3 linked regions of the Homo sapiens genome follow. The protein of the gene in region 2 interacts with the protein of the main gene of each other region in a pairwise test. Each region holds a gene or a part of one and is shown on either strand. Other genes may lie near its edges.

The links.
Region 1: the proteins of MARCHF5 (region 2) and TIMMDC1 interact in binary tests that used the Homo sapiens proteins (3 or more experiments, as listed by UniProt).
Region 3: the proteins of MARCHF5 (region 2) and BNIP1 interact in binary tests that used the Homo sapiens proteins (3 or more experiments, as listed by UniProt).

What each region holds. Positions count from the first base shown.
Region 1 is NC_000003.12:119,508,500-119,515,546, reverse strand, and holds part of TIMMDC1 (complex I assembly factor TIMMDC1, mitochondrial isoform 1 precursor), read right to left. Parts: intron 1,907-7,047; coding exon 1,828-1,906; intron 1-1,827.
Region 2 is NC_000010.11:92,350,120-92,354,464, reverse strand, and holds the end of MARCHF5 (E3 ubiquitin-protein ligase MARCHF5), read right to left. Parts: intron 3,375-4,345; coding exon 3,258-3,374; 3' UTR 501-3,257; downstream 1-500. UniProt on the Homo sapiens protein: Mitochondrial E3 ubiquitin-protein ligase that plays a crucial role in the control of mitochondrial morphology by acting as a positive regulator of mitochondrial fission and as an important regulator of immune response.
Region 3 is NC_000005.10:173,161,484-173,164,887, forward strand, and holds the end of BNIP1 (vesicle transport protein SEC20), read left to right. Parts: intron 1-589; coding exon of another isoform or gene 590-662; intron 663-828; coding exon of another isoform or gene 829-841; exon of another isoform or gene 842-877; intron 878-2,241; coding exon 2,242-2,438; 3' UTR 2,439-2,904; downstream 2,905-3,404. UniProt on the Homo sapiens protein: As part of a SNARE complex may be involved in endoplasmic reticulum membranes fusion and be required for the maintenance of endoplasmic reticulum organization. Also plays a role in apoptosis.

The DNA of each region.
Region 1 (7,047 bases), on a different chromosome or scaffold from region 2:
ATCTTACATGGCAAAATTGATTTCAGAAATGTAATTAAGGTTACTAATTAGTTGAATCTGAGATAATGAAAAAGGAGATGGCTATCTGAGTGAACACTCAAAAGCAGAGTTTTCCCTGGCTGGTGGCAGAGTAGAAGTTAAAGATTTGAAGTATGAGAAGGGGTTAATGTGCTGTAGCTGGTTTAAACACAAAGGGGCCCTAGGAGAAGAAATGTGGGTGGCCTCCAGGAACAGAGAATAGTCTGGCTGACAGCCTGCAAGGAAAACAGGGACCTCAGACCTCAAGGCACAAGGAAGTAAATTCTTTTTTAGTTTTTCCTCTTTTTTTTTTTTTTTTTGAGATGGAGTCTTACTCTGTTGCCCAGGCTGGAGTGCAATGGTGCGATCTTGGCTCACTGCAACCTCTGCCTCTGCCTAGGTGAAGGGTATATGGGGTTCAAGCAATCCTCCTGCCTCAGCCTCCCGAGTATCTGTGATTACAGGCGCTTGCCACCACACCTGGCTAATTTTTGTATTTTTAGTAGAGACAGCATTTCACCATGTTGGCCAGGCTGGTCTCAAACTCCTGATCACAAGTGATCTACCTGCCTCGGCCTCCCAAACTGCTGGTTTTACAGGTGTGAGCCACTGTGCCTGGCCACAAGGAACTAAATTCTGTCAACAACCTGAATGAGCTTGGAAACAGATTCTTCCCCAGAGCCTCCAGGTAAGAGCCTAGCCCGGCCAAGACCTTGACTTTGGCCTTGTAAAATCTTGAGCAGGGAAACCCAGCCAGATTTATAATCTACAGAACTACAAGGGTGTTGTTTCACATGCAATACATGCTCAGTTTGTGGTAATTTGTTGCACAGCAGAAAACCAATATATCAAGTAATTAAAGTTAATATTACTTATAATGGGTGACAGAATATCTCCTGATGTGATACATGAGGATACAACTTCACCTATGTTGTATTCCTGACAAAAATACATTAATCTAATCATGATGGGATGATCAAACAAAATGGAGAAACATGTGGGCATTAGTATGATAACTGAGGAGTTTTTAATATAGACCCTAACTTAGATAGTTGTGTTGAAACAATGTTTACTGTGATAATTGTATTATGATTTCATGGAAGAGTATTCTTCATCCTGGGAGATACATGCTGATATATATGGGGGTGAAGTATCATGAGGTCTCAAACAGTTTAGCCAAGAAGCAAACGGAAAGAAAAAGAAATATATTCACATCCCACACATATACATAGATATGGAAAATATCACCAAGGCGTTAACAACTGGTGAATCTAGGTGAAGGGTATATGGGGTTTCAATGTACTAATTCATTCAACTTTTCTGTAGGTTTGAAATTGTTCAAAGTAAAAAATTGAGGAAGAACATTTTTTAAAAATGTATTAAGCAAAACAAACAAAATCCTAACAATTTTTACAGAATATGCTTGTTAACTGTTTTTTGTTCTTTTTTCCCTGCTCCCATAAATACCTGTGTTCGAACTATAGTTTCAGGTGTTAGCAATATTTAAACAGTTTTAGCTGGTAAAAAGGCATTTTGAATAAGGGCCCTATCTTAGATAGTTGTATTGAGTCAATGTTATTTATTGTAATAACTACTAAGTAAAAGAAACTATAAATAAAAACTGTAAATAAGATAAACTATTGGGGTAGAATTAGAATGGACAGTCAAAGCTACTGCCAATGCAAGACTAGAGATCTTTTATAGATTCTAAGGATTAAATTTGTTCTTTGAAAATAAATGAGACTTTTTAATAGGCAAGGTATTAATGAAAATTGTGCCAATTTAGAACCAAACCATGTTAATGCTTACCCCAGCAAGGCTCCAATTATGCCACCAGCCACCAGGCCACGCAGGCCTACGTTTATCCTAAAAAGACTTCCCGTGACAGCTATTTAAAAACAAGAAAGGCAATATTAAATCATCTTTAAAACTAGAATCCTATTTTAAAACTTTCCTTCTACAAAAAGGAAATCCCTAAGTGAGCTTTCTGAATCCAATGTTAATATACTACTACAGCCTATACTTCCTGAATCTAAAATGCCAACACAGGTAGCTTCCCATCCACTCTGCAGATTCAAAGGAAGACACATCCCTTCTACAAAAGTAAATCTTCAATATGTTCTATGGATCCATTCATTCTGCTTCATTTTTGCCCATCTCTCCTTAAAAATCTGAAAATGTTTTTCCCCTTCTCTTTCTTTCTTCTTTCTTCAAGGAAAATAAAAAAGCAAAAAACCTTCACTAGCCCCTCCAGTTTATGCCTTCCCCTAGACTCACTCTCTCTGTACTGCTACATGGCACCACTCAGGCAGGGTGACAAGCAAGCAGCATTTGGCCTACAATGCTACCTGGTGACCAGTGCACAGAAAGACTTCTTTCCTTTCTGCTGGGACTGTGCATCAATCATGCTCATTCATTTTCCTTTCACTATGCACAATGCAACTAATGCCATCTAAGGTGGTAACACTTTTTAAATAATAACATTTGAAGCCAGGTGCAATGGCTCACACCTGTAATCCCAACACTTTGGGAGGCCAAGGCAGGCGGATCACTTGAGGTCAGGAGTTCTAAGTCAGCCTGGACAACATGGCAAAACCCTGCCTCTACTAAAGATACAAAAATTAGCTGGGTATTGTGGTGCACGCCTGTAATCCCAGCTACTCAGGAGGCGGAGGCACAAGAATTGTTTGAACCCCAGAGGCGGAGGCTGCAGTGAGCAGATATCACACTCCTGCACTCTAGCCTCAGCGGAAGAATGAGACTGTCTCAAAAAACAAAATAAATAACAGTTGAGGTTTATATTTTTAAGTACTATATATTCATTTTTAAAATTTTCAAAATTAACAAGAATCAAAATCACCTTTAATCCCATTACCCAGAGTCAGTAATAAGTTAGTCTTTTTTTCTGATCCTCCAAACAAAATAAAACAAAAAACAAAAACAACAACTGGGGCCGGGCACGGTGGCTCACACCTGTAATCCCAGCACTTTAGGAGGCCGAGACGGGTGGATCACGAAAGTCAGGAATTCAAGACCAGCCTGGCCAAGATGCTGAAACCCCGTCTCTACTAAAAATACAAAAATTAGCCGGGCATGGCGGCACACACCTGTAATCCTAGCTACTCAGGAGGCTGAGGCAGGAGAATCACTTGAACCCAGGCGGCAGAGGTTGCAGTGAGCCGAGATCGCGTCACTGCACTCTTGCCTGGACAAAAGAGCAAGACTCTGTCTAAAAAAACAAAATAAAACAAAAACACAAAAACTGGGGCCATGGTGTACATACTAAATTTTTTATTTTCACAGAACATATTATTAAATTCTGTATCACTGAGTTTTCTCCCACCTAGTTCCATTGCATGGAGGTACCACAAATTTTTGTCTAACACTTAGATTTTCTATTTATAGATATTTTAAATAAAGGTATGATGATAATCCCTCCACAAATAATCTTTTTATACATTTGATTGTTTCCTTAGGACAAACTCACAGAAATGAAATTTCTGGGCCAAAAGGTATAAGTATAAACATTTTTAAGGCTTTTGACTTAAATTACTAAACTGCTATTCAAAAAGGATGCATAAACTTATTTTCCAAATAAAAGTATGCAAGTAATCTAGTCTTCTGCATTCTCTTAGTTTATTTTTTCCAATTTGATAGGCCAGAAGTGGTATGTAATTTTTAAGTTGCATTTCTCTGATTAGTAGAAAAAAGTTGTTTTTCCCTAGGTTTACAAGTTATTTGTGGTACGTCTGTGAATTACAAATTCATGTCCTTTGTCCAGTCTTCAACTGAGCTATCCTTTCTTTTTGATATATTAGGGCTTTTATCCATTACCTGCACATACTATTATTTTGGCATTGTTTACATTTAATGTCTTCCATAGTATTTATGACATAGATAGGTTTAAAAATTTTATGTGGCCAAAACTGTGTTTCCTGTTTCCTAGTTTCTTAGTTCTTATGCTTAAAAATACATACAGTTGATAAACATGAGTTTGAACTGTGCAGATTTACTTACGCACAAATTTTTTTTTCTTTTTTCTTTTTTTTTTTAAGATGGAGTCTCACTCTGCTGCCCAGGCTGCAGTGCAATGGCATGATCTTGGCTCACTGCAACCTCTGCCTCCCGGGTTCAAGCTATTCTCCCCCACCTCAGTCTCCCAAGTAGCTGGGACTACAGGTGCATGCCACCACAACTATTTTTTTTATTTTTTAGTAGAGACAGGGTTTCACCATGTTGGCCAGGCTGGTCTCGAACTCCTGATCTCAAGTGATCCACCCGCCTCAGCTTCCCAAAGTGCTGGGATTACAGGCATGAGCCACCATGCCAGGCCACATGAATTTTTTTCAATAAATATATTGAAAAATGTTTTGGAAATGTGCAATAATTTGAAAAAACTCGCAGATAAACTGTCTAGCCTAGAAATATCAAAAAAAATTAAGAAAAATGTATGTCTTTAAGTGCATAAAATATATGTAGACACCAATCTATTTATGTGTGAAGCAACTGTTTATGTTATTGGTAAGGCCTCTGGATAACAGCAGGCCATTAGTAGTTAAGTTTTGGGGGAGTCAAAAGTTATATGTGGATTTTTCAACTGCACAGGGCAGATGTCAGCATTGCTATTGTGTTCAAAGCTGTTTTCAGTGTTGTCCAAAGGTCAACTTGTATATGTACACATTTATATATCTTCCTACTCAGAAATCAGAGACACATTTACTTCTATATTTTCCCCAATCTTTTATGGATTTTTTTACATAAGCACCATAATAAATGTTAACTAATTTTGTTGTACTGAATATAGTTATAATTTCTTTCCAAATAGTTAATAACTGTTCCAGCCCAAGAATGGTCTATTCTTAAACCACGAATGTGAAGTATCACCTTTACTTATTTGTGGGTGCTTGGTTTTGTTCCTGACCTTGCAATTCCATTCCACAGATCTACCAATACCTCTTTATTGTCCTCTTTATTGTAACTTTATACAGATTTTAATTTTACAGTTGCAAGAACCCCTCATTATTTTTTGCTGAAATGTCTTTGCTATGCTCTTAATAATCAGCATTTTAGATATGATTTAGACATTGTATCAAGTTTTTTTAAAAAAGCCTGTAATTTTGATTTGAATTGCTTTCAATTTATAAATGAAGTAGAAAAATACTGGGTTAACTATCAACTGTTTCCCCATTTTTATTATTTATGATTTGTAATTTTCTTCAGAGAAGTTGTACATTTATTAAATTTATTCCTTATTATATTACATTCTTAGTACTATTATTAAGAAAATTTTTTACTTTTCAAGTAACTGCTGAAATATAAAAAGGCTATTTATATATTTACACTTTACTGATAGCAATAATTTTTCAAGTCATCTTTTAAAATATTACCTACAAATACAGAAAATTTTGCTTCCTCCTATCTAAAAGCACTGCCTTTTTCCCCTTCTGTGTTAATATATTTTTAACAGTTTTATTGAGGTATAATTTACATAACACAAAATTCACCTAAATGTACAATTCAATAATTTTTAGTAAAAAAATCTAGTGGCCCGGCACGGTGGTTCATGCCTGAAATCCCAGCACTTTGGGAGGCCGAGGCGGGCGGATCACGAGGTCAGGAGATTGAGACCATCCTGGCTAACATGGTGAAACCCTGTCTCTGCTAAAAATACAAAAATTAGCCGGGTATGGTGGCATATGCCTGTAGTCCCAGCTACTCAGGAGGCTGAGGCAGGAGAATCCCTTGAACCCGGAAGGTGGAGGTTGCAGCGAGCCGAGATCGCACCACTGCACTCCAGCCTGAGCGACAGAGCAAGATTCCGTCTCAAAAAAAAAAAAAAAAATTTAGTTGCATTGCTATATAATCATCACCAAAATCCAATTTTTAAATGATTCCATCATTACAAAAAGATCCCCCACGCCCATTTGTGGTTACTCCTGGTTCCCAATCTCACCTCAATCCACTAATGTACTTTCTAACTCTACAGATCTGCTTATTCTGGACATTTCATATGAATAGAATTATACAATATGAAGTCTTTTGTGTCTAGCTTTTTTCACTTAATGTTTTTGAGTTTTATTCATGTCGCAGCATGTATCAGTTTTTTACTGATGAAAATATTCAAGTGAATGGACATATCATATTTTATTTATCCATTCACTAGTTGATGAATTTATGGGTTCAGTTTGAGGCTGTCGAGAATAACACCACTATAAAAATTTATATATAAGTCTTTGCGTGGACATGTTTTCATTTATCTTGGGCAGATTCTAAGACATGGAATTGCTGAGTTGCACAGTAAATTATACTTAACTTTTTTTTTTGAGATGGAGTCTCACTCTGTAGCCCAGGCTGGAGTGCAGTGGCGCGATCTCAGCTCACTGCAAGCTCTGCCTCCCAGGTTCACGCCATTTTCCTGCCTCAGCCTCCCAAGTAGCCGGGATTACAGATGTGCACCACCATGCCCAGCTAATTTTCGTATTTTTAGTGGAGGCGAGGTTTCACCATGTTGGCCAGGCTGGTCTCAAACTCCCAACCTCAAGAGATCTGCCTGCCTCAGCCTCCCAAATCGCTGGGATTACAGGCATAAGCCACCACACCTGGCCTTCCAATGGTTTTCTTAATTCATTTGGATTTTCTACTTGCAAGATGTTGTGGTTACCCTCCAGAGACAATAAACTCCCCCACCCAAAATTTGAATCAGATATTGAAATGCCAAAGTACCAAGAGGTACTAAGAGGATACCAAAAGGTTTATTACACATATAATAAGGCTTTCCAGGGAGAGCAAGGCAAGATCCCAAGCATGTCCCAAAATGACTTGAGAACCTGAAGGCTGACTGACTGGCTTGTGGTTTTAGAAGGTGGGGCTAGAGCAAGAGCTCCCTCATGTAGGCCTGAGCTTGCATGGTTGAAACTTCCTGCTGGTGTCAACCAAGGTAGCACTTGGGCTTTCTTATCAGCTTGTCAAGATGTGGGGCAAAAAGGAAAGGGAGACTTCCAGTTTCTGGTATGGCATGTGAGAAGTTTA
Region 2 (4,345 bases):
CATATGCATCCAGGACTGTTCAATTCTATGCCCTTTCTCCTCTTAGCATCTGTCTCTCAGATGGGGTAATGAAATGACTTAAAACCAATATAATCCCCAAATGGATGCAAGGAAAAGACCTTTAACTCATTCTAGAGGATTCTAATCTTCTACTTCAGAAATTTAAGTTCTTAATATCTCAGAAGCAGTTTGTGTTCCCAACTCACTCGAATACACTTTAAGACATCATGGCATGAGACCACCCACAGATCTTGTCTAGTTGCTTAATTATACTCAGTGCAAGAGGCTTTGAGGGTGGGTGAGTGGGGATGTAGTTTAGTCATTAGAACATACTTAGAATATAGGCTAGCCTGTTTACAAAATTAGGACAAATTCTTCCATACAGTTTTTTTTTTAAATTCAGATTACTTTTACTTACAAAAACTAGTATCTCGATAACTGTGATTAAAAAAAATTATGTATGTACAGAATGTTTTGAGATTTAACAAAGTACACCTAGAGAACATAAAAATTCTTTATTTAACCTAATCCAGCCAGTATTGAGATAGTTTGCTATATTAAAAACAAGACGTTTAAAAAAATTACAGCAAAGTTAGCAAGGCAGTGACTAATTAAGTCACTAAGTTTAATTTTATATTCTTCACAGTCATTTCATAATCATGTAATGGTAAACAATATTTTCAGCCACTTTGGAGATAAGTTAACTTTTGAAAAGAATTCTAGTAGTCGTCATTGAATTTTATAAAAGAGGTTTAAAACATTAAAGTTTCCAGAAATAACACAGTAAAGAAATATGAAAATAAACTGGAAAATAAAATATACCCACCCATCCGAAAAATCTACATCATCTCTTTCATTTGTCCCCAATGCCTTTCTTTTACCTCTCCATTTACTTTTCCTAGAGTGCAAACAGATTACTTAGCAATTAAGAAACAACTACTGCTTTGTAGGGGCGATTTTGAGCCTAAGTGCTGCTGTTCCTTTAATCTCTCAGTTAATCCTAGAAATAGTCTTCTGAGATAAACATTATTTGCATTTCAAAGATTAAGAAAACTGCAGTTGAGAGAAAGTCAAATCCTTTAGCCAAAATCATACATACAGTTATTGAAAGCTGAACTATGATTTGAACCCAGGTCTATCCAACTTTAAGTCTGCCTATGCTCTTTTGTTGCTTCATGGTCAGGCAGGTCACCTTCCTGGGAAGACTGGCATGTGGTATTTCTCGAGCTAATAATAATAAGGCTCTTTAGGTTTAAAAGTGTTCAATTCGGGGCTAGAGGCCACTCTGGTCCTCAGGCACTTGCAGTTCCCTCCCCGCAACCCTAAAAAAACCCTCCCTCCTGCCCCAAAAGGATTAGAGTTGTTCCCCGGCCTTCATGAGCCCTAATACCTATAAAACCAAGCAGCTACTCCCTGTCAAGGGCATTAATGTAGTAAATGGGGAACTGTGTGTTTGCATAACTTTAGTAAAGGCTGCCTAAAAACTGTTCTATACAACAAAATTTTGCAAGATATGTGTCCATTTAATGTATCTTTCACATTGAAAACAAAAGCCAATATATTTTATAATTACAGCCTATAATCTAAGTTTTTAAAATATATAACCATAGATGTTATATTTCCCCTTCAGAACTGTAGTAGTGTTCTTAATAAGGCTCACTGTTAGTCAAATCTTCATCTCCAAATAATACAAATTTGAATGTTCAACAGTCATTCAAATAAACATCATATAACTCAAAATTAAGACATTCATACTATAGAAACCAGTCTTTAATTACTAAAGTTAACATATATTATTGCAAACTAACATAGCTCAATCTATATTTGCTACACTCCTAAAGTGGCCGCTTATCAGTAAGGGGAAACATTTATTATTGACATGCATTACTGTGAACAAGAAAATAAATAGGGTTTTGAAAATATCTCTTAAAAATTTAATTTTAATTAACAAAAATAACCATTCAGGTTGCTGAACATTAAAATGGCCAATCTATTGAAAATGGCTTCAATAATTGCTTTTAAAAATGAATACAAAACTAAACAGTGATTAAGGTGCTAGCCTCATCAATAGGACAATTAAAATCTAAAAACATTAGTGTTGATTTTCTATAATAAACTTAAGCCAAAAACAATGACCTCAATATTTACTTAAGACTTCTTGTTTTCATACTTTTCTCCTCATTAATATAAAAACAAAGAGCTCAAGGCCTCACCTTGGTTTATTCACTGCTGGTTTTCTATGTGCTGAAACTAGACTGTCAACTCTGTAAGAGCTTGGACCAAGTCTGTCTTGTTCACCACTATGTCCTACAGCACTCTGCACAGTGCCTGGGAAATAGGAGGTGATCAACGAATATCTCAATAACTGAATCAATGCAAGAGGAGAGTAAAATAACTTTATTTTTATTTTTGCAAATCATCCTCTGCTCAAACTACTATAAACTGGCAGCTGTAATTTCTAGAAATATGGGTTGAAAAAACTCCCAGAGATGGAAGGACCTGATGAAACACTGAAACACACAAATACACACACACACACACACACACACACACACACACACACGACTGCATGAGTCAAAATTACTTCATGAAGTATGAGATGTCAACATTATGTAAATAAAATTTAATATTGAAAAAGTGATCTGGAAGCCCTGTGAATTTTTACCCTACACATTTTGGAGGACATCACATGGGTTAAAGAAAACACCACAAAATCTCATTTGTTCAGATAATCATTTGAATGTTTACATACATTTTTGGTTATTTATTTATAACTAATTTAATTTACATTTCCTCATATTAACATATCCTCTTATTTAGTATGTAATCAAATTATGTCAGTGAGAAAAATCCTCATAGTACCTTGAGTTGCTGATTCTGAGAAAACACTAAACATGAACATGTACAAAAGAGGCATTTGAATAAAACAGCATGTGCATTTTTTTAATATTTGCACAGTTTGATCTTTGCATTTCTGTCTGGAGAAAATATGAACAAAACCCAGGTTTACCATGCTAAGATAATGGTTCATATGACTGCCATAAAAGTAGTACATACAAACAATGAAAACAAATCACATCCTTAGGTTCCATGATTACCGAGATGATTTCCCCTGCCCTAAGTGCTTTATTATATTTCTTAAAAAATATAGGAGCAGCAGCTTATCACAAGTCTCCACAAGTGCATTAATGATGGAATCAAAACAACACAACAGATTCATAAGGATGAGAGAACTGCAGAACAACCAGAAGTCAGTTTTATGCTTCTTCTTGTTCTGGATAATTCAGAATTTTGCGGTGTGCCTGTCGTAAATATTGCTGCTGTTTGAAGTAAACTTTAAATGCTCCTTTTATGGCAACAAACGCAATTCCACCCTAAAATAAAAAGGAAAATTAGCTTTTTATAATGCAGATTTAGAGAAACAGAGTAATAAAAATAATTTTATTTAGATCACAAAAGACGTAGGCTTTGATGCTAAACTAATTCAGATGACTGCAAATGAAACAGTTTTCTTTTTCTACTAGGAGATGAGATAGGGAGAGAGACAGACTATACGCTGTTACTACAGGTAACAGGGGACACAGATGCCTTCTCCATTATCCTTTCTGACTAGTCTTTCTTCCATGTAGTTCTACATATACTCTGATATACAAAGAAGAATGCTAGGGCACTATGTGCAGACTGCCACTGTTGGGAGCAAGAAAGGCCAAAGGGATCGTGACCAACTCAGCATTCCACTGGAGGCTATATGACCAAACAGCAAACTGTTTATCATGAATGCAGGATGTGAGTAAACTCACACTGAGCCTGCCACCAAAGGGTTTGCTGGGGGCCATCACTCCCTGGTGCAGGGCTCCTTGAACTTATCTACTGGGAAATCTAGCGCCTACTGTTCAAATGATGCAGTCTCGCAAGCCTGCTGTGAACCAAACTGCCAAATGGACTGACAATTACCCGACAATCACCCCTGCTTCTCACTATCTCTTTTGCCTAATAAATACAGAGGGCTGTGTAAAGCTCAGGGCCCTTGTCCACTAGAGGCAAGGTGCCCCCTGACCCCTTCTTCCAAATATACTCTCTTGTCTTTGTCTTTTATTCCCACGTTTGCCCCCTTTGTTCAGTCCTCCAAGGTCCGTGCAGGTTACATGCCACCAGAGGGGAGAAGTGGGAGTAACAATAATAGCAAACAACATGAGTGCTTACTATGTGCTAGTACTTATACAATCCTCACAATAATCCTGATTATTACCATCACCATACTACAGGAACAAAAAGTCCAGACATTTGATTTAGATTTCACAGCAAGACAATTTCTGTGATGGGATTTGAACCAGGTGGTCTGATC
Region 3 (3,404 bases), on a different chromosome or scaffold from region 2:
CCCCCCGCTAACAGTGGGAAGGAAACACAAATGCTGGTGGCTTCTGGGGTGTTGAGAGGGTCCCGGTGTTCTTGGGGCCCATTTTGTACAAGCGATAACTATTGAAGAAAAGAGAAGAATACAGTTCTTAACCCTTTCCTTATGCCTCACAAATTCAGCTTGATTTAAAAGCCTACTAGGACCATAATTTTAAAACAAAAAGCTTATTAGGAATATGGTGTCTGGAATTTGCTCCACAATTGCAGGAGTAGTTGCAGTTGGGGGGAGGGGGAGCAGGATTTCAGAGGTTGGTGGTTCTTGGTTATGGGTGGTGGACACATGGCATTTCATGATATTATGCTGTCTGCTCTGTGATGGTTCAAAATTCTCCGTAATAATAAAGTTTAAAAAGAAAGGCCTATTAGATTTTTACTTAGCAAGATCTCAGGGTTTTGAAATCGCAGCAGGCAGGCGTGGAGAAAGCAGGCGGAGAGGGATTCCTGTTCTGTGAGTGTTTGTTTTTCTCCTTTTATCTGTCATTTTCAAAACGCTGCTGTGTTTCCTCTGATAATTTATCCTATTTACTTATTAGCTTTTAATTTTTAAAAAGGTAACACATACAGCATAGAGAAGGATAAGAAAACTCTAGCCCAGGACTGCCATAGAAACGCAACAGCAGCCACGTATGTAACTTTAAATTTTCCAGTAGGCACATGTTAAAAAGTAAAAAGAAACATAAGAAATTAATTTTAGTAAGATGTTTATTTAACCCATTATGTAAAATATTATAATTTCAATGTAAAACTAATATTAAAAACTATTGAGATATTTTACATTCCTTTTTCTTAGATTAAGTCTTTGAAACATCGTGTGGATTTTGGCCAGGCGCGGTGGCTCATGCCGGTAATCCCAGCACTTTGGGAGGCCAAGGCGGGCAGATCACTTGAGGTCAGGAGTTCGAGACCAGCCTGACCAACATGTTGAAACCCTGTCTCTACTAAAAATACAAAAAGAAAATTAGCTGGGCGTGGTGGTGCATGCCTGTAGTCCCAGCTACTGGGGAGGCTGAGGCAGGAGAATCATTTGAACCTGGGAGGTGGAGGTTGTGATGAGCCAAGATCACGCCACTGCACTCCAGCCTGGGTGACAGAGTGAGACTGCATCTCAAAAAAAAAAAGAAAAGAAACATTGTGTGGGTTTGACACTTACATCTCCTGACATCTCCATTTGCATTAGCCACGTTTTTCTATGCACAGCAGCCTCGCATGTCTAGGGGCTGCCATATTGGTCAGCACAGCTCTGGAGAGTACAAAAGGGACACAAAAAAGATCACTCTCTGTTCTGACCTCCAGCTGACCCCTACCTGCCAGCCCTCTGGTCCACTTCCCAGAGGCAACCTCTGTAACCAGTGTCTTAAAAAATATCTTGTGATCCTCCAAGCTTTTGTAACTTAAGCAAATGAAATACCATTTATCTCCCTGTTTCTTACCTAAATGGAAACATTTCACAGGCGTTCCTTTATACTTTCCCTTTTCACTTAATGTGTTCTATTCAATGGCTGTTCTGATGATGCCTTGCTATGTTTTGTGGGAGAACCTCGCCAGGTACACCTTCTACCCTCAGCGTCAGGCCCAGATACCCATATTCAGAAATACATCTGACTCTGGGGACAGTGATTCCTTAAGGGACGTGGGCCTCTTCTTAGGTGTCACCTCCTTAAAGCTACAGCCAGTATCCCTGGCCTGAGGGACTGGTATGTGTGAGGGCTTACGGCAGAGCCCGGGACACCCTTGCCCTTTTGAGATCCTGCAAAGTGCCGGTCTGGCCAGCAGATGTCCTGGAGGCCGCACCTCATAGGTGGAAGGTTCTGGTGCATTTGGCTGCTGCCCCAACACAGACCTCACAGTGCCTGCCCACGATCCCTGGGTTGATTTTGTGGCTGGTGGTTTCCCTGAGCAGCGTCCATCTGCTTCAGAGAGCTGAGGAGGTGGCTGGGTGAGCAAGCCTCTTCTGCCCTTCTCCCTGGTGACGCTCATGTTCAAGGACTCCCAGACAAACCCCCCCTCACTCTCTGGAGCTGATGGGACCTGGGGAGGAGCCTTTCCTTGTCAGCTCCTTGGCTGGTCTCCACATGCTTTGATTCCAGCTCAGAGGAACTCACTTGAGAATGCTGGTTTTTATCAGCACCCCAGCCAGCAGAGTGAGGTCTTTGGATCTTGAGCTGCAGTCTCTGAGTTGGGCCTCCTTCCTCTTTTGTTTCAGTCACTTCTTCACGAACGATCCTGGATGCAAATGAAGAATTTAAGTCCATGTCGGGCACCATCCAGCTGGGCCGGAAGCTTATCACAAAATACAATCGCCGGGAGCTGACGGACAAGCTTCTCATCTTCCTTGCGCTAGCCCTGTTTCTTGCTACGGTCCTCTATATTGTGAAAAAGCGGCTCTTTCCATTTTTGTGAGATCCCAAAGGTGCCAGTTCTGGCCCTTTCAGCTCCTGTTTCAGGATCTGTCCTGGTTCCTGAGCTCTAGGCTGCTAAGCTGAGCCACACACCCCTCCGTTTGCACCAGTTGCCTGCAGGTTGGATGGAACACAGTGCCCCACTTTTCTGCAAGTAGCTGGCTTGTAAAGGGTGAACAGAGCCATGGGAGGAAGGTCTGGCATTGGGATGCCGCCCTGGGGACATACGAACCGCCTCCTTCCACCATTGTGCACTATGGGAGGCCGCTGCTGCGTGGAGCACTTAAAGTCCAGCCTCCAGGACCGGATGCCCCTCCTGTCTCCCGCTCCCATCGTGCCCTTAAATGCCAGATCTGGTGGAGGGAAGAGAGAAGAGGTAGGAAGAAAGGTGATGAAAACTCCTGGTCATTCCTTGAATAAACTTGATTTTATTTAATAGAATAAAATGTATTTGATTTTGTAAGATAGCCCTCTGGGAATGTGTGTTCCTCTTTTCTTTTTTCTTTTTTTTTGAGATGGAGACTTGCTCTATCATCCAGGCAGGAGTGCAATGGCGCAATCTTGGCTCACTGCAGCCTCTGCCTCCTGGGTTCAAAAGATTCTCTTGCCTCAGCCTCCCAAGTAGCTAGGATTACAGGCACACACCACCATACCCAGCTAATTTTTGTATTTTTTTAGTAGAGATGGGGTTTCTCCATGTTGGCCAGGCTGCTGTCGAACACCTGACCTCAGGTGATCCACCCATCTTGGCCTCCCAAAGTGCTGGGATTACAGGTGTGAGCCACCATGCCCAGCCCTCTTTTCTTGATGTCCAGATTTTTAGGACATGAACCTAGATTATTTATTTATTCATTCATTCAACAACGAATTAGCATTGTTATTTTCTTTCTGTCCCCACCCAACAACAAGGAACTATTAAACAGCTGCCACACACAGGGTGTTATAGACGCTGCTGAACATGACAAAT